Linked DNA regions of Homo sapiens: regions 2, 3, 4, 5 and 6 are each linked to region 1. The links come from fine-mapping of genetic effects on gene expression. A gene starts in region 1. Each other region holds a variant in brackets. All regions are shown on one strand. Distances are from middle to middle. Region 1 holds the start of FCGR1A (Fc gamma receptor Ia). Region 2 overlaps LOC105371406 (a long non-coding RNA gene). Region 3 overlaps LINC00869 (long intergenic non-protein coding RNA 869). Region 4 holds the start of TRV-CAC1-7 (tRNA-Val (anticodon CAC) 1-7). Region 5 overlaps LINC00869 (long intergenic non-protein coding RNA 869). Region 6 overlaps LINC00869 (long intergenic non-protein coding RNA 869).

Evidence for each region. PIP is the estimated chance that this variant, and not a neighbour inherited with it, causes the effect.
Region 2: its variant is fine-mapped to the expression of FCGR1A in whole blood (TOPMed, PIP above 0.99).
Region 3: its variant is fine-mapped to the expression of FCGR1A in whole blood (TOPMed, PIP above 0.99).
Region 4: its variant is fine-mapped to the expression of FCGR1A in whole blood (INTERVAL, PIP above 0.99).
Region 5: its variant is fine-mapped to the expression of FCGR1A in subcutaneous fat (GTEx, PIP 0.95).
Region 6: its variant is fine-mapped to the expression of FCGR1A in whole blood (TOPMed, PIP above 0.99).

The regions. Positions count from the first base shown.
Region 1 is chr1:149,780,805-149,784,895 of GRCh38, reverse strand. FCGR1A (Fc gamma receptor Ia) reads right to left here and starts at 2,202. Exons shown (of 6, transcript NM_000566.4): 1 at 2,122-2,202; 2 at 1,706-1,726; 3 at 639-893. The coding sequence starts at 2,152. LOC124904411 reads left to right here. Exons shown (of 2, transcript XM_047438183.1): 2 at 1,636-2,006. It also overlaps a transcript of H2BC18 not described here.
Region 2 is chr1:149,755,810-149,759,900 of GRCh38, reverse strand. The region is part of intron 2 of LOC105371406 (a long non-coding RNA gene); the gene reads right to left. It also overlaps the pseudogene TRR-CCT8-1. Among named protein-coding and RNA genes, the nearest start is that of TRN-GTT8-1, 18 kb to the right of the region's middle. The variant C/T (reference allele first, on the strand shown) is at 2,114.
Region 3 is chr1:149,670,539-149,674,629 of GRCh38, reverse strand. All of the region lies in intron 8 of LINC00869 (long intergenic non-protein coding RNA 869), which reads right to left. Among named protein-coding and RNA genes, the nearest start is that of RNVU1-30, 36 kb to the right of the region's middle. The variant C/T (reference allele first, on the strand shown) is at 2,031.
Region 4 is chr1:149,710,463-149,714,553 of GRCh38, reverse strand. It overlaps TRV-CAC1-7 (tRNA-Val (anticodon CAC) 1-7), which reads left to right and starts at 1,930; the gene lies at 1,930-2,002. The variant T/C (reference allele first, on the strand shown) is at 1,913.
Region 5 is chr1:149,678,004-149,682,094 of GRCh38, reverse strand. It overlaps LINC00869 (long intergenic non-protein coding RNA 869), which reads right to left. Exons shown (of 9, transcript NR_111950.1): 9 at 2,572-4,091. It also overlaps the pseudogene FAM91A2P. Among named protein-coding and RNA genes, the nearest start is that of TRV-CAC1-7, 33 kb to the left of the region's middle. The variant T/C (reference allele first, on the strand shown) is at 2,052.
Region 6 is chr1:149,617,084-149,621,174 of GRCh38, reverse strand. The region is part of intron 1 of LINC00869 (long intergenic non-protein coding RNA 869); the gene reads right to left. Among named protein-coding and RNA genes, the nearest start is that of LINC00869, 12 kb to the right of the region's middle. The variant G/A (reference allele first, on the strand shown) is at 1,788.

The DNA.
Region 1 (4,091 bases):
CTAATAGGCAGAATGGTTAAATTAATTCTGGTACAGCTGTGCAGCAGACATTTTAAAGTGGATTTCTATTAATATAAACAGAACTTTAAGGTATTTTAAGTGATAAAAGTAAGATATAGGACAATACTTAGAAAGTGTTCTACCACCCACAGCTTTAAAACTATATATATGTGTGTATATATATATATATATATAGTTTATATATAATAATGCTAATATATACATATATATGCATAATATGTATATATATATTAGCAGTTTTGTTTCTGTGGAAGGTGACTGCAGATCTAGGTTTTGGGTGGGAGGAAGATATTTCATTGTTCATTATTGCTCATTTGTTTGAATTATTATTATTTACTATGTACAGGCATACATTTGGAATAATGATACAATCTTAGGGCCTAAGTCTTACTCTAGACATCCTACTTAGAGCTGGCCTAGCTGAGGTACTGTTGGTACACAGTTTAAGGACCCTGCTGTGATGTTTTGAGTATACTGATTTAGTTTCACCTGGTAGGTACATAGTGCTGAGACCTGCACCCAGATAAATCGACACACACACATCTGGCATCCAGAAAGGAGAGAACGCAGAGGAAGACCTTGTGGTTTCCGGCCCTCCTGGTCCAAGTCATAATTACCTCTGTGGATTTCCAGCTGTATGGGGTCACTTCGCCCTGAGAGACCTCTCTGGCACCTGTATTCACCACTGTCATTGACACTGGCAGAGGTGATTCTGTAGCTGGGGGTCGAGGTCTGAGTGGCTGTGCCATTGAGAAACCACTGTGTAGAGCTGCTCCCAGGCAGATGGAGCACCTCACAGTGCAAGGTTACGGTTTCCTCTTGGAACACGCTGACCCATGGAGGCTGCAAAGTGATCACTGCCTTTGTGGTGTCTACTTGGAGATTACAAGAAGAAAAAGAAAAAGATCAAGTGGAGTAAAGGGGAGGGCTCTGAGCAACTGGTGAGGCTTTTGTGGATAGCACAAGGGAAAAATACATATTTAGATTTATTTGAAAAATAGGCAAGTGGAAACCTACAAAAGCCAGCCTTTAAGAGTGTCCTCCTGCTGCAGAGACCTCTGTTCATTGTTATTAAATCCTCATCTGGGTGTTGGGAATCTGGGGCTCCTGAGGATTAAATTACTGATGTAGGTTTTTCTGTTGGGAGCAATGAAGCAGGGTTTTAGACTTGGGCAAGCCAAGCGGAGCTGTTTTCCTTATCCTCTGAGCTATACTGTCTCTGAGAGTACATTGCAGGGCTTCAGCAGCTTGTACATTGGAAACGGAGGTTCAAACTCCTCTCTTTGAAGCCTTCAGTATTTGCCTGGCTCTTTCTGAGGAGAAAAAACCCACTCTGCTTTCTTGTAAAGGGGACTGGTTTAGGGGATGTTGGGAAACCCAGCAGACTACTTCAGTGTCAGCAGACTACTTTAGTGTTTGTGCAATTCTGGCCCTTTCCTGCTGTTATATATACATTCAGGCATTTCGCTCAGAGGAAAGAGCTCATTCAGAAAACTTTAGAAAGAAAGCTTACAAATCATAGTTTTTATGAAAATCATGCTCTGAATATGGGAGATTTTACATAATTTATAAATCTTTCTTCTTTCTCTGCTTTCCCTATATGCTCTTCTGCAGGTTAATAGGACCCATCCTTTGGAAGTAGGAAAGTGGCATAGAAGGAGAAGCTGAGTTAGAGATCACTCACCCACTTGCCCATCAACTGGAACTGCAAGAGATCAGAGAATAAAGATATCAGTTGGTCCAAGGAAAATAATGAGGAAGAGAGAATTGGGGAGACAGAATTAATGTAGACTCTGAGGGATCAACTCAGATCTCTTGAGTTTCTATTTCTCTTTCTCAAAATCCAGTACTAACAGAACTGAACAAGCTACAGGTGGTTATCAAGGAAACTTCACTGCGGTGCGTCCAGGCTTAATGCTACCTCAGGGTTGCCCTTCCCATCCTTTTCATAAAATAAGCTCTAATAAACCATGGAAGCACAGATACAAGTTGCTTCATACTCATGAGTTCTACCCAGAGTTACCACAGGAAGACAAAACTCTTGACTCACAACAGCCACAGCCTGTACCCTTCTAACTGTCCCCTCTGAGTCCAACTTACCCCAAAGGAGCAGAGTTGTCAAGAACCACATGTTGTCTCCAAGCTGGTGGGAGCAGTGAAATCTGTAACATGCAAGATATTGAAGAGGTTCTGCTGGTGGCTCCAGAGCCAAATTAGAAAAGAGGAAGGAAATTGCCTTTTCTGACCATTTTCATCATGTTGCTTTTCTGGGAAATACATCTCAAATTCTTGAAACATGCTTTTCCCATGCTCATACCTGTTAGCCCATCTCTCCCAGTTTGAATCTCTGATTTTCAGGTTATGAACTCTCAGAATCCAGGGAAAAGGCTAAAGTTGTATTGACATTCTATTCTATTTTTACCCTCTACCGTTTCTGTTTCTTACGGTTAGAATATGGCAAAACCTCACTCTTTATAATTGGTTCAATGCCTGGCTAATGCCTCCAAACAATCATTTGAATCCAGAAGTTTCTATATCAGCCTCTATGAGGCCATGGGAAAAGTTACTCATCTACAAGAGCTGCCCTAATACAAACCAGCCTCTGCTCCTCTAGGGGACACAGACAGGATCAATCTCCCATTTTGGTTAAAAAAGAAAACAAACTCTCTTCCTGAAAGACATCATGAATTTGGAGTGTTTATTTTGGCTAAATCCAAGGTAATTAATTGTTTAATGTGGATGCTATGGAGAAGAAAAATAACTCATGCACATGGATAGCAATATCTTCAAGAAAAGAGTTTCAGAGTACAAGTGGGGAGCTCTGTGCCACCAAACTGAGGTGGCTCCTGAGACAGAGTTGTAACCCCATAAAAAGATTTTTAGGTATTGTGGTAAGAGAGAAAGAGAGCTAAATGGAAACTAAATGAGAGCTAAAAAAAGAGAGCTAAAGAGAGCTAAATGAATTCAATGAGTGCAGAGAGACTTTGGCAATCTTACTAGCAGAGAATGAAAAATGATGACAAATCATGCTGTAAGTTGGTGTACTGGCCCCAGTTTCTCACCGCTCCCTGAATCTACACTCTCTCCACAGCCTCATGAGGGTATGTCTCTGACTCTTGACTGTGGCTCATCATGAGACTTTCATTGGCCAGCGAAATGTGAATGGAAATGACATGGTGCTAATTTCAAACTTAGCACTTAGGAAGCTTCACACATTATCTCTCACCCTCTTGTTCTCCTGTGATTGCTGAGACAAGAACATTTTTTAGCTAGTCAGCCACAGTGCGAAACAGAGCTGTCCTAGACATTGTGGCTTGAGGCAGAGCTGCCTCACCTGCCCTGCAAACTTGTAAGTGAGAACTAAATGCTTACCTTTATATGCTACTGAGATTTGAGGATTGCTATACGAGCAAGAGCTGACTGACACAAATGAAAAGCAAGGAAGAAAGGCCGGGAAGAACTCAGGGTGTTCTGAAGAGACGAGAGAAGCCTCAGCTTGTTAAAATTTATATTCAAAGCCTATATCTGTAACTATTTTACTATTTTGTCTCCAAAGTTTTCTACTGTATGCATGTACCATAATTTATTTCACCAACTTCTCTTCATGAACATGTAGGTTATTTCTAATTTTTTACTGTGTGACCAGTAAAAAAGACTGCTTACTACCAAAATAGTCTTGTGACTACCTTTAAACATTTGACTTATTTTTTCCTTAGGACACATTCCTAGAATCAGTAGTGCTTACTCAAAGGAAATGCGCATTTTTTCCTTTGGATAAGATGCTATCAGATTGTCTATGATCATTATCCTCATCACTGCATAAATTTTAGAGTGCTTATTACATGCCAGACAAATATGCTTGATACATGTTTTCTTATTTAAGCCTCACAATAATCCATGAGTAGACACTAGTATCTCCATTTTACAAATGATAAACCTAGTGAAAGAGGAAATCAGTAATTTGTCCAAGGTTGTAAAAAATAGAAGCAGGATTCAAAATCAGACAGTTTGATTTCCTTTACGTACTCACTGATGGAGTATAACAGTGCCCACCCCATGCCTTGCGATTC
Region 2 (4,091 bases), 25 kb after region 1:
AAATTCAGAGACATAGCAGAAATAAAGAGTAAGATAGCAGCACATATGTTGATAAATCTAAATTAACATTAACTACATAAAATATATGTCTAGTCTTCTGGGGTTTAAAACTATTAATACTTAGACCTAATAAATGATAACAGCATATATATAGAATGAGACTAAATGGAATAAAAGTATTCCAACATCCATATATTGTGCAGGAAGAGGATAACGGTATCAATTATTACTATGTTTAATAAATTAAGGATTAGCTGGGCACGGTGGCTCACGCCTGTAATCCCAATACTTTGGGAGGCCAAGGTGGGCGGATCATGAGGTCAAGAGATGGAGACCATCCTGGCCAACACAGTGAAGCCCTGTCTCTACTAAAAAAATACAAAAATTAGCTGCACCTGTAGTCCCAGCTACTCGGGAGGCTGAGGCAGGAGAATCACTTGAACCCGAGAGGCAGAGGTTGCTGTGAGCCAAGATCGTGGCACAGTACTCCAGCCTGGAGACAGAGTGAGACTCTGTCTCAAAAAAAAAAAAAAAAAAAAAAAATTAAGGATTAAGATTGTAATTTTTAAAGTAACCACAAAAGAATAGAAGCAACTTAAATACAATTAAAGGAAATACAATAAGGAAGAAAGTGAAGCAAAGCATATAAAAAAGTAAAAAAATATAATGTTATAATAGTTAAAAATAACCAATCCAAAACAGACAAGAAAAGACATAGAAACAGAACAAGCAGAACAAACAGAAAAAAATAAAGATGGTAGATTTAAAATTAATATATATCAACAATTACATTAAATGTAAGTGGACCAAATTATCCAGTAAAACAAACCCCCGAAATACTGCTACACTGGATTTTTAAATTAACTATATGATATATTTAGGAGTTGTATCTAAACCAGAAAGTGAGAGAAAGGTTGGAAATGAAAGGCGAGAAAAGGAGCTTGACTGAAAACATTAACAAAAAGGTGGCTATATTAATAGACTCTAAAGCAAAAAACATGACATCAGAATATATCTCTTAGAGAATATAACCATTCCTTTCTAAATACTTTTTATGCTGACTGGTTATCATAGGTGACAATATATGTTAATCTGTCTGCACCATTTTGTTAAGACAAAAAGCTTTGGTATTTTCTTCTTCACTCTCCAACTATAAAGCTATAATAAACTAATAAATCTTTAAATATTCCTTATCTTTAAAATTTTTGTATAAGTGATTATTGTCATGTTATTTAGTGCAGTGGTTTATTTTCATCCTTTCTTCCTAATCTCCAAGTATTGCCAGGTACTTGAGCTTTTCCAATGCACACGTATCAAAGCCAGCATGAGTCCAGAACCTACTGCCTCTGAGAGCTGATCCATGGTAATTCTTTTCCCAACATCCTCTTGGTCTCTAGGACTCTAATGACCAAAGGAAAAGAGATTGCTGTTGCTTGGCTACTATGTTGGTAGATATGATTTAAGGCTACAGGTATGTCCAGATTTACACTGTGGAAAGGTCACTCAGGATACAGTGTGGCAAATGGGTTGGAATAGACAAGACTGGCTGTAGAGAGGCCAGTTTTTGATCTACTTATGTTAATGGAGGTGATGGATGGACCAGCGTAGTAACAAAGTGGGAATGAGTCTGTATAGAGTCCAATAAATTTAAATACTATAATTCTTTGGAAATGAATTGTCGTGTTGGGAGATTGGGAGTGTTTAAAGAAGATATCAAGATCTGATTTGAGGAGCAGGATGCATAGCAGTGAGGATAAGTGTCTAGGCAGGGGTAGAAGCAGGTTTTAGTGATCTGTTGAAACACCCACAGCAACACACTACTCTTTGGGAGATGCTGGCTTGGGGCTGATCATTGAGGTAGAGGGTAGTATATGATGCTGACAGGGAACTCACTGGTGTGTTGAGTTTTAGCATCTGTGACTCTGAGATGCATATGAGGCCTCTTGTAAATTTTGGGGTTGAGAGTAGAAAGTACAGGTTTGTATTTTAGAAAGAGATTTCGGAATAAATGTAGCTCTGGTTGACACAGACAATATGTGAAGGTTTGTTGGCCAGAACTAGTATGTGTCTTGGGTGTTGGGCAGAGAACAGATTGAGCCAAAGCTCTGCAAGG[C/T]CAGTGTGAAGGGTGATTTCCTTGTTGGGTTCAAGTTTATGACTCAGCCTGGACCTAGCTTGGCTTCTCAACTAGAGAAGAAGCATGATTCCATGTCATACACAACTCCTGTCTTTGAAAAAATCATAATGACTCCCAGACCCAACATGTGGGGCAAACTTTCCAGATTTTTCTCTTCAGTTTAATCTTTCCAGGGAAAATTGGGGAAAGAAATCTCTCTATTTGAACTTCATCAAAAGACCAATATGTTAATATTTCAGCCATTAATATGTCTTTAAACCATGTTACTCCTTAAACAGCTATTACACGAAAGTGTATTAACTGAGGAAACTGGGTTCTCCCAAACAATGAAACACTGACTGCAAGCATTATTCATCTTTTTATATCATAAATTCCTTCAAATATTTTAGACATTTTAGAAAGCAAATAATAGTATTATAATGATTACAAGACTGATCATTACTCTTTTACAAAAAACGGCCACAAATAACTAACTCCATTAGCATTACCTTCTGTCCTTTCATTTCCTCTTTCTTTGTCTTCTTTTTTTGCCTATGATATTCTGGTATAGCATATTCCCTCTTTCTTCTAATTCTAATTCTGATTCTGCTTCTTATTTCTTCCCTAGATTAAAACTTTACTTACCTATGCTGCCAGTTAGTGCTTCCTTCCCAGAGCCACTAAAGCAACAGTTTGAGGTTGAGGTCCTAAATTGAAGATTTAGGATCAGAAACAAGGAACCTGGATGAATTTCTGATGTTTTTCTATAGGAGTCTGTTACGCAGTTGGAAGGAGCCTTTTTCGGAATTAAAGTTTGATCAAATAAGCTATTTTAATATTTATAGTTTTGTCTAGTAAAAGTATTCTGTAAAAACCTTGGTTTTGGATGTCTACTGTTAGCTTTTAGTCAATACTGCAAAAAGCTTCTTTTGGAACAATTTCTGTCTTTTTCAGTATTGTATTTCAATTGTTTCTCCAGGACCACACATAAGAGCCGGATTTGTGGTCCAGTGGTAGAATTCTCACCGCCTGCATAGGAGACCCTGGTTTAATTCCTGGCCAATGCAACAAGTTTTGTGCTTCACTTCTCTATATTCTTTATACTTCTGCCCTGCACAGGCTATCCCATGTTTAAGGGCCTTGGTTGTGGAGGCTTTTGATTTATGACAATGGTAACCCAAGTGATGGCCAATGCCTGAAGCATAAGATATTCAGGAAATGATCTAATGATCTAGGGACCTTGCAGTTAGAGTCAAGAGCCATTCCTGTAATCCCAGCACTTTGGCAGGTCAAGGCAGGTGGATCACCTGAGGTCAGGAGTTTGAGACTAGCCTGGCCAACATGGTGAAACCCAGTCTCTACTAAAAATACAAAAATTTGCCAGGCATGGTGGCACACACCTGGAGCTACTTAGCATAGTCTATCTTTGAAAGTGGCAAGTGTTTCTGGTAGTTTGATGCAGTTTTGAATATTGGTATGTAAAACTTTTGTTACTTTCATCTATTCTCCAGGTAGATCCCTAGAATCCCAAAGAACCATCACGTCCCTGATTCGCATGCTAGACCTTGGGCTGACCGCTGGGTCACGCCTCACTATGGAGCGAGGAACAAGAAGTGAAGTCCCCTGAAGGAGAGAAGCTGTGGGGAGGAGCAGTCACCTTGGTGGTGTCAGGTGTCGGCAGTCCAAGAAAAGGGGAGGCACGTGGGGAGGAATCCGTGCGGAGATGAGGGGAGCAGTGGAGACGTGGCTTTGGGCAGAGGTGGCGAGTGGACCCTCAGGCCTGTACCCTGGACACCATGAACAGAATTAGTTAACATTGTCACCCACCATGGCCTCCGTGTGTTCCGTGAGCCCATTTGCTTTCCCAAAGGGATTCCTAGCAATGTGTGTCAACAGGTGTTGGCCTGATTTTTTTTTAATTTTTATTTTTTGAGACTGGGCAGTGCAGCAGTGGCTTGGTCTTGACTCACTGCAACTT
Region 3 (4,091 bases), 110 kb after region 1:
CCTGAGTAGCTGGGATTACAGGCACGTGCCACCAGGCTTGGCTAATTTTTTTTTTTGTGTGTGTGTATTTTTAGTAAAGATGAGGTTTCACCATGTTGGCCAAGCTGGTCTTGAACTCCTGACCTTGTGAAATGCCTGCCTCAGCCTCCCAAAGTGCTGCGATTACAGGCATGAGCCACTGTGCCCAGCCTCAAAGATTCTTATGAGTCCTCACAGATGTCAGAGGAAGATACCATGACCTATACTTGCAAACTCCCAGAAGACTTAAAGCTATTGTTTTGCAAATGCACAGATAAATATTAATAACATGATGCTGTGGATGAGCATGAAAGTTTTTCTCTTACTCCTAATTATAATATTTTCTCTCTTACCGCTTTGCCCTGCTGATGGAATTCAATAAAGGAATCTCTACCAGCAGACACTTGATTTTTACCCTTCCTAGGACCTTTAACAGATATCTTGTTATTACTAATCTTTGGTCCTTGCTTGTTTAACCTCCTTGTAAAGTTTGTGTCTTCTAGATTACAATAATTCCATGTAAAGATGATGCTGGCACAAGGCTTTCAACCCATCCCCTCTTCTGACCCAGAAAATAAAGACATCCTGCCTTTGGGTCTTTTAGAACAGGTATCCAGAGATTTTACTTCTCCAGTGCTAGGCAGAGTCTATGCCCATAACATCAGCAGGAAGCAGTTACAGAAGATGAACCTGCACCCTTCTGCAAGCCCCTTAAGATTAAGGAGGAGTATATAATCTCTGATGGGGAAATGAGGTAGGAGACCAGAAAGACTTATTTTCCAGTCACAACCCCATTGAACAGAGCAGGATCTGGTCAAAACAGGGTGCAGTGGAGAAGCCTGCTGAAACCAGCAGATGATGATGAAAGTGACCTCTAGTTGCTCTCACTACTTATGAGCATAAAGACACTACCACTGGGACCATGGCCAGTTTACAAATGTCATGGCAACACACCTTGGCAATGGCCTGGAAGTTACTTTATACGGTTCTAGAAACTCCCTGCCCCTTTTCCAGAAAGTTCTGAATAACCTACCTCTTAATTGGCATGTAATTAAAAGTGGGTCTAAATACAACTAGCTAGCAGCCCACAGGCACCAACTCTGGGCACACTGCCTATGGGTTAGCCCTGCTCTGCAAGTAGCAGCACCAGTTCAATAAAAGTTGCTTTCTTTCACCAGCGGCTTGACCTTGAATTCTTTCCTTGGCAAAGCCAAGGAAACTACAGTCTGGGAGAAATTTCTCAGGCTACAAACCAGTTTTGAGGTTCGCCTGCCCTGCGTCACTACCATTGTTTCCTTGGGTTTCCCAGGAATGTACATGTGTGAGACTGCTGCCCTGCTTATAGATCTGTTTCCCTGCAGGAAACAGGAGTATCTTGCCTGGGGCTTCCAGAGTTGGAGATACATGTAGTTTCACTACTGAGTGCTAACATTTAATTTTGGAATCAAGTGATGCATTCAGACTGGCTGCTATCATTCTGTGGTATACATGTAGTGAACACATTTGTGACTGAGTTTCCTGCTTTTAGCTGGAGCAAGAAAGTTTTGTAATTGTGCTTTGTACAAAAAAATCATAGGCAAGAGAATGTGTGTAAAATAAACTTTATTGTCAGAGGTTTCTAAAGGCTTATCCTTCAAGGAAAATGGACATATGCTGAAGAGCTGATAAACAGTCTACAGCAGTGTTATTCTAACTTAATCTTGATTCCAAGTCCTTGCCATTTTCCTCTAGCTGCTGTTGACTCCAGTTATATATAGGTTGGGGGAAAGGGGATTATTTATGGATCTAGGCATCACTGTCTCTTGGGCAGTTATCACATTTGCAGACTGAAGGGATGTGATTTCTACAATCAAACTATCCATTTGGAATACAAATCTGGAGTGGCTATAAAATTTGCTTCTCAGAGATGGAGCTTTCAGATTTGGACTTTCAATTGTTCTGTTGTTTTAGTTTTTCTCATCAACTGGGGAACTGTTTGTGACTAAGCTTTGTTAAAAGTAGAGAAGAACTTT[C/T]CATAGTTCCAACATTAGTTGCTACTTGAAACAAACAAAAACACACACACACATACAACGAAACAATAATCTTTGGTGAGGTCTTGCTGATACCTAACTGAGGCTAGAGTGAGAGCTAAGTGGTGATACAGGCCAGGTGCAAACTGAGTGCAGCTAAGTGGATAATCTCTGGTAGTGAACTACAGTCTAGAAGAAGATAGTAATAATAGATTGAAAAGAAAGTCTCCTGAAATGAACTAGCTGGCCTGTGGTGTAGGACACAGGACCCCAGCCACCTTATGGCTCTAAAAGCCTTGCTCAAAGCCACTGCAGATGAGTTAGCTAGGTCTCTACCACCTCCATAATACTCCTCTGGAGAGAAATAAAGGTCTTTCACACCTCCCAGGAAGGGATTTGCTTAGCCTCAAATGTGCACATTCAGAAATAGCTTGTCATAAGAAAGAGAGGATAGTTTGCAGAGAAATAACCCTTGTAAGTCCACATCCTATTCCTTTTAAATAAGAGAGTGGTGCCAAGGGAAGAGCCCTAGAATGTCAAAGCCAACAGGGTGCTCAGATACCACCCAAGTACAGTTCCATCTTTGGCCATAAGGAGACAATGGTGTCAAGAGGCTAAGGCCATATGATCTGTAGGTGAAAAACCTGGGATGAGAATCAAGGCCTCAAACCTTTTCCACTACATCACAGATTTAGGAGCAGTTAGACGGAAGGCTTCAATCTGGAGAACACTAACAGGTTTTAGAGATTATTGGGTCATGGTGGCTGGGACAGAAATAAGGATTCACAGAAAGATGTTTATAGTCAATGTTCTTTTACAGTAAATGTTCTTTTGGGATTTTCCTTGATAAAAAGGCTGAGCAAAAGTGAAAAAAAATTTTCTTTCTTTCTTACTTTCTTTCTTTGTCTTTTTCTTTCTTTCTTTGTCTTTTTTTTTCTTTCTTTCTTTCTTTTTTTTTTTTTTGAGACAGTTTTGCTCTTGTTGCCCAGGCTGGAGTGCAATGGTACAATCTTGGCTCACCACAACCTCCACCCCCAGGGTTCAAGCAATTCTCCTGCCTCAGCCTCCCAAGTAGCTGTGATTACAGGCAGGTACCACCACACCCAGCTAATTAAAAAAAAATTTTTTTTTTAATTTTTAGTAGAGACAGGGTTCCTCCATGTTGGTCAGGCTGGTCTCAAACTCCCGACCTCAGGTGATCCTCCCAAGGTGCTGGGATTACAGGTGCGAGCCACCACGCCTGGCCAAAATTAAAAATTTTCTAATTGCAATTCTGAACAACTTATGGGTTGTGAAATCAATATAGTGGACTGCTTACTACTACAGGCTTTATTTAAATACCAGGAAGGGTGGATTACACATAATAAAAGATTTTTTAAAAACTGATCACAAAGAATTGTGTATTTCTCACTGTATCTTGTGGTCAGAAAAGTTTGAGAAACTGCTCCACATAGGCAAATTATAGGTTCAATCTATCCATCTACCTCTTTTTCTCTTCTCTTTTTTTCCATGCTATGCAAACAAGACCATGGAGAGAGGAAGGCAAATTCCATCAATGGATGGGGTTAAGCCTTTTCTATGAGGTAGCTGCACATTTGGGACACTCCTATGCTGGCGACTTGACATTCTAGTAGATAGATTGTCCTTTTCATCTTTAGCTACATGTTAAAATTACTTGGGAGCTTTTTAAGACTACTAGTGTCTTCCACCCACCTGGAAGCATTTAAATCAGAATCTCTATGTGTAGAGTCCAGGCACTTGTGTTAGTTAAAACCTTACCAGGCTTTATAATATGACAGAATGGTTTAAAGCTACTGAGTAGACCTATCCTATTTCCCACCATTTTCTTTGTTTCTCTTTCACCATAGGCTTCTTTCCCATGAGAAAGTAAAGATTTTAGTCTCTCTTTTCACAGTCCGAAGTAAATCACTATCTTTCTCAATTGGACTTCCAAGGCAAAGATTTCTCTCCATTTACCTATCTGGATTTTTACAAAGTTGGCCTCTGGATTCCCTTTTCCCAAAGCTAATTCACCACAAACGCACCCCTCAAGTCAAGGAGCTG
Region 4 (4,091 bases), 70 kb after region 1:
ACTGATTCTTTCTCATCCGAGGAAGCTGTTGCTTCTTAGTTTTGAATTTGGTATTGTTTGGATGAGGATTTTTAATTTTTTTATTCTTTTTTTCCCTTGATGGTATGACTGTGGTGTATGTTGTGTATGATTGTTTGGCTTCATTTCTGGGTGCTTTCAGGGAGCCCTAGCTTTGTATGGGTTTCTTGGTTGTGGATAGCTTCTGAGCAGTAGCTTTCTCAGATGCTGCTTGTTGTGGTGATGTATTGGAAGTAAAAGCTAACACAGTAACCCTTGTTGGGGGCTGAGGGTACGGAATTCTCAGGAAACTTATCTCATGGACTAGCACTAAGCCCTTTGGTAGCAGGGTTTTTGAATTCAGTGGTCCAGTTTAGGATGCAGTCCAGTAGATGGTGCTTAAGAGTCAGGGCTGTTACGTAGGCTGGTGTCCAGTGGAAAAACCTGCCCTGACAGGATGGTGGGAAAGAGATCATGTCGGGGTGTGCTGAGGTCTCAGGGGAAGGGGCAGAGGTGCACTAGCTCCTCCTCCTGAGTAGGCAAGAATGTGATCCGCTTCCCTATCATGCCCTGTCACAGAGCTCACAACCTTCATTTTATAAAGACTTTGTCCTTTGGTTCCTGGCTGTGGTGCAGCTGAAGTCTGTGGATATGCCACTCTGACAGCTACCACTAAAATGGGGTTTAGGGCAGAGCCTCTTCCCCGAGTCCAGGGCAGGCAACTCCATGGTCTGTCCTCCATTGCCAGGGCACTGCAGCTCTGTATAGGGAGGGAGAGTTGGGCCCGTCCTTCCTGAAAGCCCAAGCAGCACAGGCTCACTTTCAGCCTGGGTGGTGCCACCATGAATAACGTGCATAATGTTCTCTCCTGGTGCACACTCACTGGGTCCTGGAGAAAAGAACCACTGCTATGTCTGCAGCCATATACGGGGTAGGAGAGAGATGATCCCTGCTTTTCCTGCTTTTCCACTCCTGTTCCTGGGTGTCAATGCTGCCCCCTTCTGCGATTGGTGCCATGCCAGTGTTTTCTTCGTCCCTAGGAGGGCTTTGGGACAGTGAGCAAACAACTGTTCTGATAAACGCAATTTAACCCGCGACCCTTGGCTCGCTCAGGTCGTGGGGTTGGGCCGCCTTTGCGCTTTTCCTTTGGATCTGCCCTTCTTCTGGGTTTGTTCTCTCGAGCTAGGGGAAGGCCTGGGTCCCCTCTCTTTGGCTCCTCTTGCCGTATCAGAAACCTCACACTTCTTCCTTTTCCAGAGAAGCTTCAGAGTGCTTTGTTGGGTTTGCTGGAACTCGGCAGGGCGCAGTATGTGGGGATGCGCGCTGTGAGTCTCTGTTTCCTCCGCTGTGACGGCTCTTCCCGCTCCTGTAGGAAAAGGCAATGCCCCTTTTGTCTTGTCTATGTGGGACTCCAAAGGGTCCAGACGAGACAGAAAGGGGGCGAATCCTCTCAGAGTGGGCAGGGGAGGAGATACAATATGGGAATGGGGCGGTAGAGGGGTGGGATTTCATGAAATTTCCTGATTTAAGGCGATCATGAAGTAGGCCTCTTTGGGAGCTTGGCCCTCCAGTCGCTGGTAAGGGTAACAGCCCACCAGTCTCTGGTGAGGTCCAGTCGCGTCCCCCGACTGCATTTAGAGCCAAAAGCAGAACGAGGCCGGCTCTGCGGCCTGGCGTCCAGTGACCCAGCTGTCTGCATATTCCCCAGGGTGGAAGCACTTGGACTTCAGGTGTGAAGGCAATGCGGTCACCACCACAGTAAGAAAAGCAACTAGGGAAAATGGCACCTTCTTCTCCCAACTTTTTTTTGAGACTCTCGCTCTGTCGTCTAGGCTGGAGTGCAGTGGTGCGATCTCGGATTTGGAAACTATAATAGAAACGGCCGATCTAAGATTTTCATGGTTATATTTTGCCG[T/C]GCAGGTACTGCTTGTGGTTTCCGTAGTGTAGTGGTTATCACGTTCGCCTCACACGCGAAAGGTCCCCGGTTCGAAACCGGGCGGAAACATAGGTTTTTTTTTTTTTTTGTTTTTGTTTTTGTTAGCCCTTAAATTTAGTGAGTTTACTCGAGGTTGGAAAACAGAAAAGTAGTTGAACCTGTGACTACATTTTAGACCTCATCAATCTATACAGATTGTCGACCAGGCTACAATTTCCACTGGTCTGCCAGGAAGAGGACGTCACAGCAGGCCTGCTTAATATTAACTTTGGTTCCAGCAATTCCTTAAGGTTCTCTTCATTCTCTTTATCGCCTGAATTTTCACAGGCAGACACCGAAAGTGGATGACATGTTAGCGCATTTCCTAAGGGTCCAGCTTGGCTTCGCTTTACTCTGATACAGTTGCAGATCTGGCTGATTTGCGAGACAACAAAAACAAAATGTTTTTTAAAAACGTTCCAAATCTGCATCTGGAACTCATGGAGTCAATATTCCGAAATCACACGAATTATGTACACACATTTGCATGCATACCCCTTCCCCAAATAATCCTCAGAAAACCGGTAAGCGTCCAAACTACTCTCCGGAGGCTTAGGTAATCAACAATTTAATAAATACAATTGCTAATGTATGGTGTACAGATCCTGTATTGCCCACCCTTCTCTATTGCTTTGTCCCCGCGCGCCCTCTGTTTTGCCTAAATGGGTTCCAGGCCATAGCCACCGACTCTCGCTTTGCCTTCTGGCCTCTCGGCAGTGCGCTTCAGCACCATTGCGCCAGGTGACGCTGCTGAGAACAGCTGAGTGGCCGGCACTAGTGCAGCTGGAAGCCAAGGCCCAGAATTCTCAGGAATCTGCACTTTACCCAGGCGAAAAGCCCAAGGGCTCTCCCCACAGCTTCCCAACATCCCTCTACAGAGTTTTTAAATATTAGACTTATTAACCTGTAGAGATGGAGAGAATCAAAGAAATCACAAGGTATCTCTGAGGGAAAAAGAAGAGCACCAGCAGTAAATCACTTAAGAGTATTGAACCAGCAAGCCAGGGATAGGAGAATGGAATGGAAACTGACAGGATGACTGCAGAGGGTGGTACTGAGGGTGGATGCGAACCACTACTTACTATTAATATATTGAGCCAAGCACACTAATGGGGGCATAACCAAAATACTTAATAGGGCACTCTTTTACCCACCATGTGTTTTACAATATAGTTGCTAAAGGATGTATCACCCTACTGGTTCTAGAAGCTTCTGGAGCCAAGGAGCCAGAGCATGAGAGCATAAAAATCCTGTCAATTGAAGCCTTGGGCTCTACACTGCTAAGCCTGGCCCAGAGGCTGGATTGCAAATGCAGGTGCTAGTGTAATGGAATGGATGTTTGTGTTCCCTTCATATTATATATTGAAGCCTTAACCCCCAATGTGAAGGTATTTTGGAGGTAGGGCCTTTGGGAGGTAATCAGGTTTAGATGAGGTCATGACCATGGGATCTCCATGATGAGATCAGTGTCATTATAAGAAACAGAAGAAAGACGAAAGTGCTCTCTTTCTCTCCACCATGCGAGGACAGAAGGAGAATGTAGCAGTCTGCAAGCCAGGGAGAGAGCCCTCACCAAGGAGGTGAATCCGCTGGCAGTTTGATCTTGGACTTCTCAGCCTCTCAAACTGTGAGAAAGAAATTCCTCGTGTTTAAGCCACCCAGTCTGTGGTATTTTGTTATGGAAGCCTGAGTTAAGACAGCTGGTTCACTGGGGAATCCACTGGTGTGAACCTGTGAAAAGTTTGTGACATGTGAAGTAGTTTGCTGCTCCTGGATTTGAGTATTGGCAAGAGCTGTTAGAATGATGAGCATAGAGGGAAGAAGGGTACAGAGAATATGGTATTAATCATTGTACTGAAGAAATAAAGGGACATTATATGGTTCTAGGCTGAAGTTATGTGCAGATTTAAGCTGTGGAAGGGTCACTCAGCATACAGTGTGGCAAGTGAGTGGTGCATACTACACTGGCTGTAGGGAGTCCAGTTTTTTGTTGTTGTTGTTGTTGTTGTTGTTTTTTTTTTTGAGGTGGAGTCTTGCTTTTTCACCCAGGCTGGAGTGCAGTTGTGTGGTCTTGGCTCATTGCAACCTCTGCCTCCTGGGTTCAAGCGATTCTCCTGCT
Region 5 (4,091 bases), 100 kb after region 1:
CCAACTCATTGACTCCTGGGTGGAAACCATGGAAGAGATCTACTCTAGAAGGTCCAACCTTGAAGACAAGCCCTTGTCTAACCCCAGTGTTGAGTGGTTTAGAGATGGAAATAGCTTTATTCATGAGGGAGTAAGAAAGGAAGGTTAGCTAACAAGAAGTCATTGAGGCCAAGGGTTTACCTTCTCAGAATTCTGCTCAAAAAGCAGAATTAGCTGCTCTAATCAGGACCTTCCAACTGTGAAAAGACTTAAGCCTGGGTTGGATGGCTCACGCCTGTAATCCCAGCACTTTGGCAGGCCGAGGTGGGTGGATCATCTGATGTTGGGAGTTCGAGACCAGCCTGGCCAACATGGCGAAACCCTGTCTCTACTAAAAATACAAAAATTATCCGGGTATGGTGGTGGGCACCTGTAATCCCAGCTACACGGGAGGGTGGGGCACAAGAATCACTTGAAACTGAGAGGCAGAGTTTGCAGTGAGCCAAGATCATGCCACTGCACTCCAGCCTGGGCGACAGAGCAAGACTCTGTTTCAAAAAAGAAAAAAAAAACCCTCAAGAGTCAATGTGTTTACTGACTCTAAGTATGGTTTCCGGGTGCTTCAGGCTCATGCAACCATAGGGAAGGAAAGGGGACTATCAAGAGCCAAGGGATCCCCCATACAACTTTACTCAGATCTTGGAACTTTTAGATGCCATCCAATTCCCAAAGAAATAACAAGTATTCACTGCAGGGGACACCAGAAGGGAGACACTGTTCTTATTAGAGGAAATTCCCTTTTGGAAAGAGCAGCTAAGGCCACAGCTAAGGAAACCCTGGTATTTCAGGCTGCTGCGCTACTACCAGGTCATCCATGTCAGTGGAACCGTACTATACACCCAAGGAAATTAAAGGGACTGAGTAAAAGGCTTCCAGTAAGACCCCTCTAGACGCTTGCTAGAAAAGAACAAACTCTATTCCTGAGGCTGACAAATGGGAAATAATTTAACATTTTCATGATTCCTCACATTTGGGACAGGATTTTCCATTCAAATTAGTTTCCTAAATATTCTTGGGGAAGGGACTGTTCTAATCTATAAAAAGATTTACCAATCAGGAAGCCACCCCATACCCCACTCCCTGCTTAAACTTGTACAACACCACGGAACATACCATAGTGAAGACTGGCAGACAGATTTAACCCAGATGCCACCTTACAGGGGACTACAATATTTGCTAGTATTTATAAACACTTTCACCAGGTGGATAGAAGCTTTCCCCACAAGGACAAGAAAAGTATTGGAAGTGTCTAAATTCTTACTTAAAGAAATCATCCCAAGATTTGGATTACCAAAATGTTTGCAAGGGGATAACTGACCTCCCTTCCCAGCTAAGGTGACCCAGTGAGGTAATGCCTCAGCCTTAAGCATTACCTATCTTCACTCTTCATGGAGATCTCAATCTTCAGATAACATAGAAAGCCAGTTGTGACATTAGCAAAACTCTTTCAGGAGACCTCAGAGGCCTGAGTTTTCCTCCTACTCATAGCCCTTTTGCATATGAGGATGGCTCCAAAGAGAACTTTAAAGCTTAGTCCATTTGAAATGACTTATGGAAGGCCTCCGCCTTTTTTTTAACTTGATCAACACCACAGTTTAATTGTAAACATGTCATATGTGTCAATGATCAAATTGACAACACTTTATAGATTTCATTGTATAATATTAACATCCTAACAGAAAAAGATCCACTGTACTCATTTACAGTTTGGTATTTTAAAATCCTTAAATACAAATTGTATTTGAAACACTGAACACAAAAAAGAAACTTGAATGCCAGAGAAAACTGAAAACATCAAGTAAAAGAAACCAATATTCCGCCCCCCCCAAAAAATATAAAATCATCTGATTACATAATTTAAAAAAGAAATAAAGGAAATCAGATGATCTTATTTTTTAATGATATAAAGTTGCGTTTCTTCAAACCCATTTTAGATGTGAAATGTACCATTTTAAGTTATATGTCTTTTTTGGTATGTGTTCTTCTTTTCCTCTTGGTTTCTAAAGAATGTT[T/C]TCCAGGATTTAAATTACATTAAAGAAGTCGGGAAAGAAAGGAAGGAATGTGGTAAAAAGCCAAATTAAATTAACTATTTGGAAAATAATTGGATATAAATTTTTCATGAATCTTCTTTGGCAAGTAACAAAGTCTGCATTTTAAATTTACCTTTTTGTTGAAATGGATCAATACTTGTAAGATTTAAGACATTACATGAGTTAATGTATAAGTAAAAGGAAGCCAAATTCACAAAGCAACGTGCAAACATGAACTTTTCACATTTTTGCTAAAAGCTCTAAAAATGCACTCTCCCTCCTTGAGAGTATGAGAGGTCTTCAGCTCAGAATCAGATGATTACTCTTGCCTCATTCAACACAAGAAACCAGAGGGGACCCCATGGTTTTTCAGTACTTTCCCTAAAATTCATGATTACCATTAGGTTCCATTTCTTCCTCCTTTATCTCTCAAAAGAAATATAGCAGCAAATCACTCCCATATTTTAAGCTTTAAATTCACCAACAACTGGGCTCACTGCCAACAAATACAAATGTTCAATTCTTTATTAGTGTACGTGTCATTACAGTTGGTTTAGATGGTTAATATAGGAATACAGAAAATAACTACAGTTCATTCAAACAAAGGAAATTAAAATGAGATTAAAGAGCCCTGATTAAAAAAAAATACAACTTTCAGCTGAAAAACTGTAAAAGTTACATACATACATACCTAATGGCACTAAGAATGTACAATATCAATTATTGGAAAAATAAGTGAGTGACTCACAGTCATAAGAAATAATTTAATATTAGTATTTTTCTTTTATAGACAAACATAACATACACATGGTTTCTACCTTTTATAAGGCAAAGTAGAAAACTAACCGTTACTGCATTTACCTCAAACACAGCACTGACTGTGCCACAGATAACATGGTCCAAAATATTCAATTCTATACATAGGCCATGGTAGTGGATGTGTGGTTAAGTTTTAGGAAAGGCATATATTTCCAGAAGTAAGTATGTTAAATACACAAATGTCTATAAATAACAAAAAGTTATCAGCAAAAACGCTTAGGTTATAACATTCCCAAACGTTCTAACATTTTAAGTGTTTTAGATATGAGTTGTCTGACCAGTTCATTTGGTTACAGTTTTAAACTAGCAAACCATTGCCCTATAAGAGGAGCTAAACTAAACTGTTAACACTACACAAACTTCCCAAGAAAGGTAACTTGAAAAGTCTAAAAAGTGATTCCAATTATTCTAATTAACATTTGAGATGCTAAAAGAATCAATGACTCAAGAAACACTTTGAAGTAATTCCATTTTTCTTTATCATTTTCTAAAAATGTATTCACATAAATTTAAGATCCAGATTGCTTAAGAGTATGTCTTCAAAGTAGGTTAATCACTAAAGCATTCTGATCCAAAGACATAGTCTTAATGCTTCTAATATGTAATTCTAACCTAAAATCACAATCCTTGGTTTGAAAACATCAAAGGTAAGAAACAAAAAAATAAATCAGGGTGAAAATGTGCAGCAGCTATAGCTACAAGAGTGGAAAATAAATTCTACTTTTTCCATAAAGACTCTGTGAAAATATAAAGCCCAAAGTCAGTGACAACAGAAGTCCACATATAAATGGTGTTTAAAAATAGAAAGTTTTCTAAAGCTTCTCATGAGATGTCAACGAATAGTCATAATCTGAATTAAGACCTTATAAATCAAGGTTAAGTTATACATAACCATGATGATTTACATACCTTCTACAATGTCCAACTGACATACATAATTTAGATACCCATAGGAATTCATAATGCCCTATCATATCATCTCCCAATACTGGATGTTTACTGTTTTATAGTTTTACTACTTTAAGTACCAAGAAGCATTTTCAGAGGAAGAGTTCCATCTCTTCCCTTGATCCCCCAAAGTATAGGTAACAAAATATAAAGTTAAACAAGATTGATGTTTGATAAACTAACATATAAAATTATCATTGCAATTTTCACAGTGACTGCTTTTAAACATAACAGTCATCATAAAGCCTATAAAGT
Region 6 (4,091 bases), 160 kb after region 1:
TGCCAAATATGCCAGATTTTACTTTCTGAGTCTGATTTTATACTTCTGTCCTCTTTCTTACCACATGGCTTCCAGTATCACTTACAGACTAACCCTTCAAAAGGAGAAGGCTAAGTTACTAACATTTGGAAGGCTTATGAAAGTGAAGCATAGTTATGAGCCAGCAATGTTTTTATTTATGGAATGTGTGCAAACCATACACTTAAGCAAGCTCTGGGGAATGAGAGTTGGGGGGAATCAACTGTTTTATTTGCTAATTGGTATTTCCTTTAAAAGATAGAGTTCTTCCAGATTTTAACTGTGTTAATAGTTACTCTAGAAAAATTGGAGATTTGTGTGCATATATTTTATGTTGTAAACAGACACATACCCAGAGACACTGAGAGAGACAGACAGACAGTAAACAGAGGAGCACTAACCACAAACGGTTTACAAATGACCTCTGTGCTCATTCACCTGTCTGTTCCCCACCTTGCCTTTTATAGCAACTATAGCAACAGCCATGAGAGTCATTGTGGAAAGAAATAAAATAAAATAAAAAAATCCTGGAAGCTTGTAAAGAATGTGAGCAAAGGGGAGGAAGTTGTGAAAAAAATGAATAAAGGGCACTGATCCAGAGTATTGAAGAAGGCAGAGTGGAGAGCCTAGTAATGAGTATCTGGTACCCCAGTATCCTCTCCCACAGAATCTGTACAGCTCTCCGTTTATGACAGTTTAAACTTAATTTAAATTATCAAACAGACACTTTCCTCAAACATATAAATGATGAGGCAGTTCATTCAGGCTGTATGTATAAAGTTGTTCCAGCCACCTTTTTCTAACGGCTTCTCTATATCTTTTACATGGAGACAATGAGAGATTTGCTTAGGACAATTTGACTGTAATTTAGAAGTAGGAAATGGGAAGTATTTGTATCTTCTTTGCCTAACTCACATTAGTTACTCAAGTAAGCATTTCTTCCGTTATTGCATTTTCCTGATTACAAGTTTTATGTTTTCTCTAAAACACATATCAAAAGAAATGTCCTAAGCACTATGCAGGGGGAAGCCATGACATTTATCCACCACTGTCAGCAAAAACATGAACTTAGCCCTCAACAGAATATTTCACTTCATTCTAGTGTTACCTCTGCGTCACCTGCACTGGAGTCACCACTTGCCTGTTGGGTAAGACCAGGATGCACCGCTGAAATAAAAAGGGGTCAGACAATACAAGAAAAGCCAGTAGAAATTGCCAAATGTATCAGAATACACACAGGCTTTCTAAGGATATGGCCCAAGAGGAAGGCTCTAGAGCCCACCCTGAAACAGGATTTTTGACTTCACAGAGAAATTATTTAATTTTCAATAACACAATTCAATTAAAGAAAGGGAAATACAAGGCTAAACAAATAAGAAATGAAGACAAAAACCCAACCTTTCAAATCTAAAGAAAATAATCTGTTTTAAAGACACAGATGAAGATCAGGAACCCAAAACAGAAGAAAGGAAAAGCAATTAACGCTGGCATCTGATAACAATGAAAAGTATGGAGTCTGGAGAATCGCTAGACTCTAAAAATTATAAAGGTTTAGACTTGGACTTTGTACACTGAAGAAAAGAAAACTGCATGCATTTATACTGACCAATGTACAATATTGCTGCTTTTTAACTTTTGTGTATATGTAGGGTAGATTTTTTTTTTAAGTGAAAGCAAGCTTATTAAGAAAGTAAAAGAATAAAAAGGTGGCTTCTCCATAGGCAGAAAACTAGCGTAGTTTTTTAATTAGAAATTGTTATTCAATAATA[G/A]TACATGTTACAAATAAATACCATTTTAAACTGAAAAAATTGTAGACTTTCAAATCAGTTAGGGTGGTCACCCTAAAAAAGGGCATTTTTCTCCCCTTAGTCTCCTTGTTCATGTTGCTCACAACAAGAAATGGGCTAATGCTATGAATAATAATAACAAACACTGCCTTCTGTCAGGCCCTGTGCTGAATACCGTCTGCATATGTATAGGAAAGGGTTAACTCAGCAGGTCTTGTTTGCCCAGACTGTGTACATTTCCAAGAAAGGTCTGCCTTTAGTACTGGTCCTTGGCCAGCTCCTGGAGAATGAGCTCTCAGCTTTTAGAAAATTCTATCTGCTGAGAATAGTTTTGCATGTCTCAGGTCTTGGGCCACAAAATATCAGTTTAATCAGATGGTTTATGTTAACAAGTATGATTTATGGCAAACATAGATCTCTAATCTCCATTTCTCTCTCATATATCTATATTTATCTATCCATATATATGTACCTATATATATCAAATATAAAGATATGTTTATAGCAATTGTATATACATAGAGAGATAGTATGTAGTATGAAGAGAGACATAGATATTATTCTTCATTTTAGAATGTTATCTTGGTATGTTTAAAAGGAAAAACTTAAGATGTGTTGCAATTGCAGTATGAGTTTCAGGTATGTACATGTTATGTGTGTGTGTGAGAGACACACACAAACACATTTCAAATATGTTTTATGTTTAAGCTCAATATTCAAACACAGAAATATAACATCTATTCTTAATATGTTTTATGTAAGTACAGCAGCAGCATTATTAAATACTGTATTTCTATGGTGATTGAAAATTAGTAGGCAGAGAATTTTTGTAATGGTTCTTAATAATTTTTGTAATAGTAAATGATTACTTTTTGTTTAGTATAGTTTTATAATCTATACATGAATAAAGTGGATATTTCTATTCATATAGAAATGTGATTTACTCTCATGTACTTATCTACATGCTAAAACCATAAGTTATCAATTTTAGTTCTGTGCCAAGGCACTTTTACTGAATAAAAATAATCAGCTAATTTTATATTTTCCTGATTCAAATTTATATGCCCGTGTAATGTTCCGGGGTTTTTTTTTTTTTAATTTCTGTAAATCAGAATATTCAGATGTTGAAAAAGTCTTTGCCTTCAGATTTAAAAGATACCTTTGAAATGTAGCATATCCCAAAATGCAACCCAGAGGCTGGCAATGTCAACATTTTTCTGTTTTAAAAAACCTCTTATGAAAACTATTGCCATACTAAATTTTTTACTTGCTGATGACTTACAGCTGGAAAGGATTCTGTACATATAAGACATCAAATATTGAGGATACTGGAACTTTTAAATTAATGGCAAAGAAAGTCAACAAAGGAAGTTCATATGAAATCAAACTAGTAATATGATTACAAAAAAAAAAGTTTAAAATTTTTCTTGGCCCCAGTCTTATCATTTCTGAGCCAAATACAATTCTATCGAAATCACCTGAAACTGAAATCACCATTCTAGGCTGGTTTTCCCATAAAGATGGACTGCTCCAAAAAGAGGAATCAAGAAAGAATTTGGCTCACAGTGAATTATTCACTTTGTCTTAGTTAACTAAAAATAAAATCTGACTGTTAACTACAGAAATCATTTCAAATACTGTGGTGATAATAAAGTAATGACTGCTTTTCAGCTGGAGGGACTTTTTTTTTTTTTTTGCTGCATATATAGCTGTGGTACATTTTAATGTGAAATGATGACTGCATCAGCTTATATCCATGGAGCAGATTTTAGCATTCAGCTTGGGTCTCCCAGTCAATATCTACGAGTCTCTTCTTAAGGAGATCGATGACACAGATACATACAGACTAACAAATGTGATACCAATAATCAAGAATTCACTCAGTTAAGATTTTGCCCACTGATTTCCACACAAGAAACCTAGAATTTACTAGATTCTTGTGCCTGTGAGGCTCCACTCGTTTCCCTGAATCACAAAAGCTACAGAGTATTTAGATAGAAATATACCTACTCTTAACATGAACCATTTTAAATATATGTATTACTGTGTCCACAGGAGTACACTTTAAAGCAGGAACTTCACTCTTCAATCTCTCCAATCATGTGTTCCCTAAAGTGGCATGTGGTTCCCTAAAGCTTAATAACTGACATTGCCTTAAAAAAGGGGTTTGCTTCCCGACTAATGTGGAAAAAGTCTGAAAAATGATTTTAAATCTTTCACTAAATTTCTCATTTGGTCACGTGGAGGAAAATGATTTCACCAAATAGATACTCTCATTAATTTTTT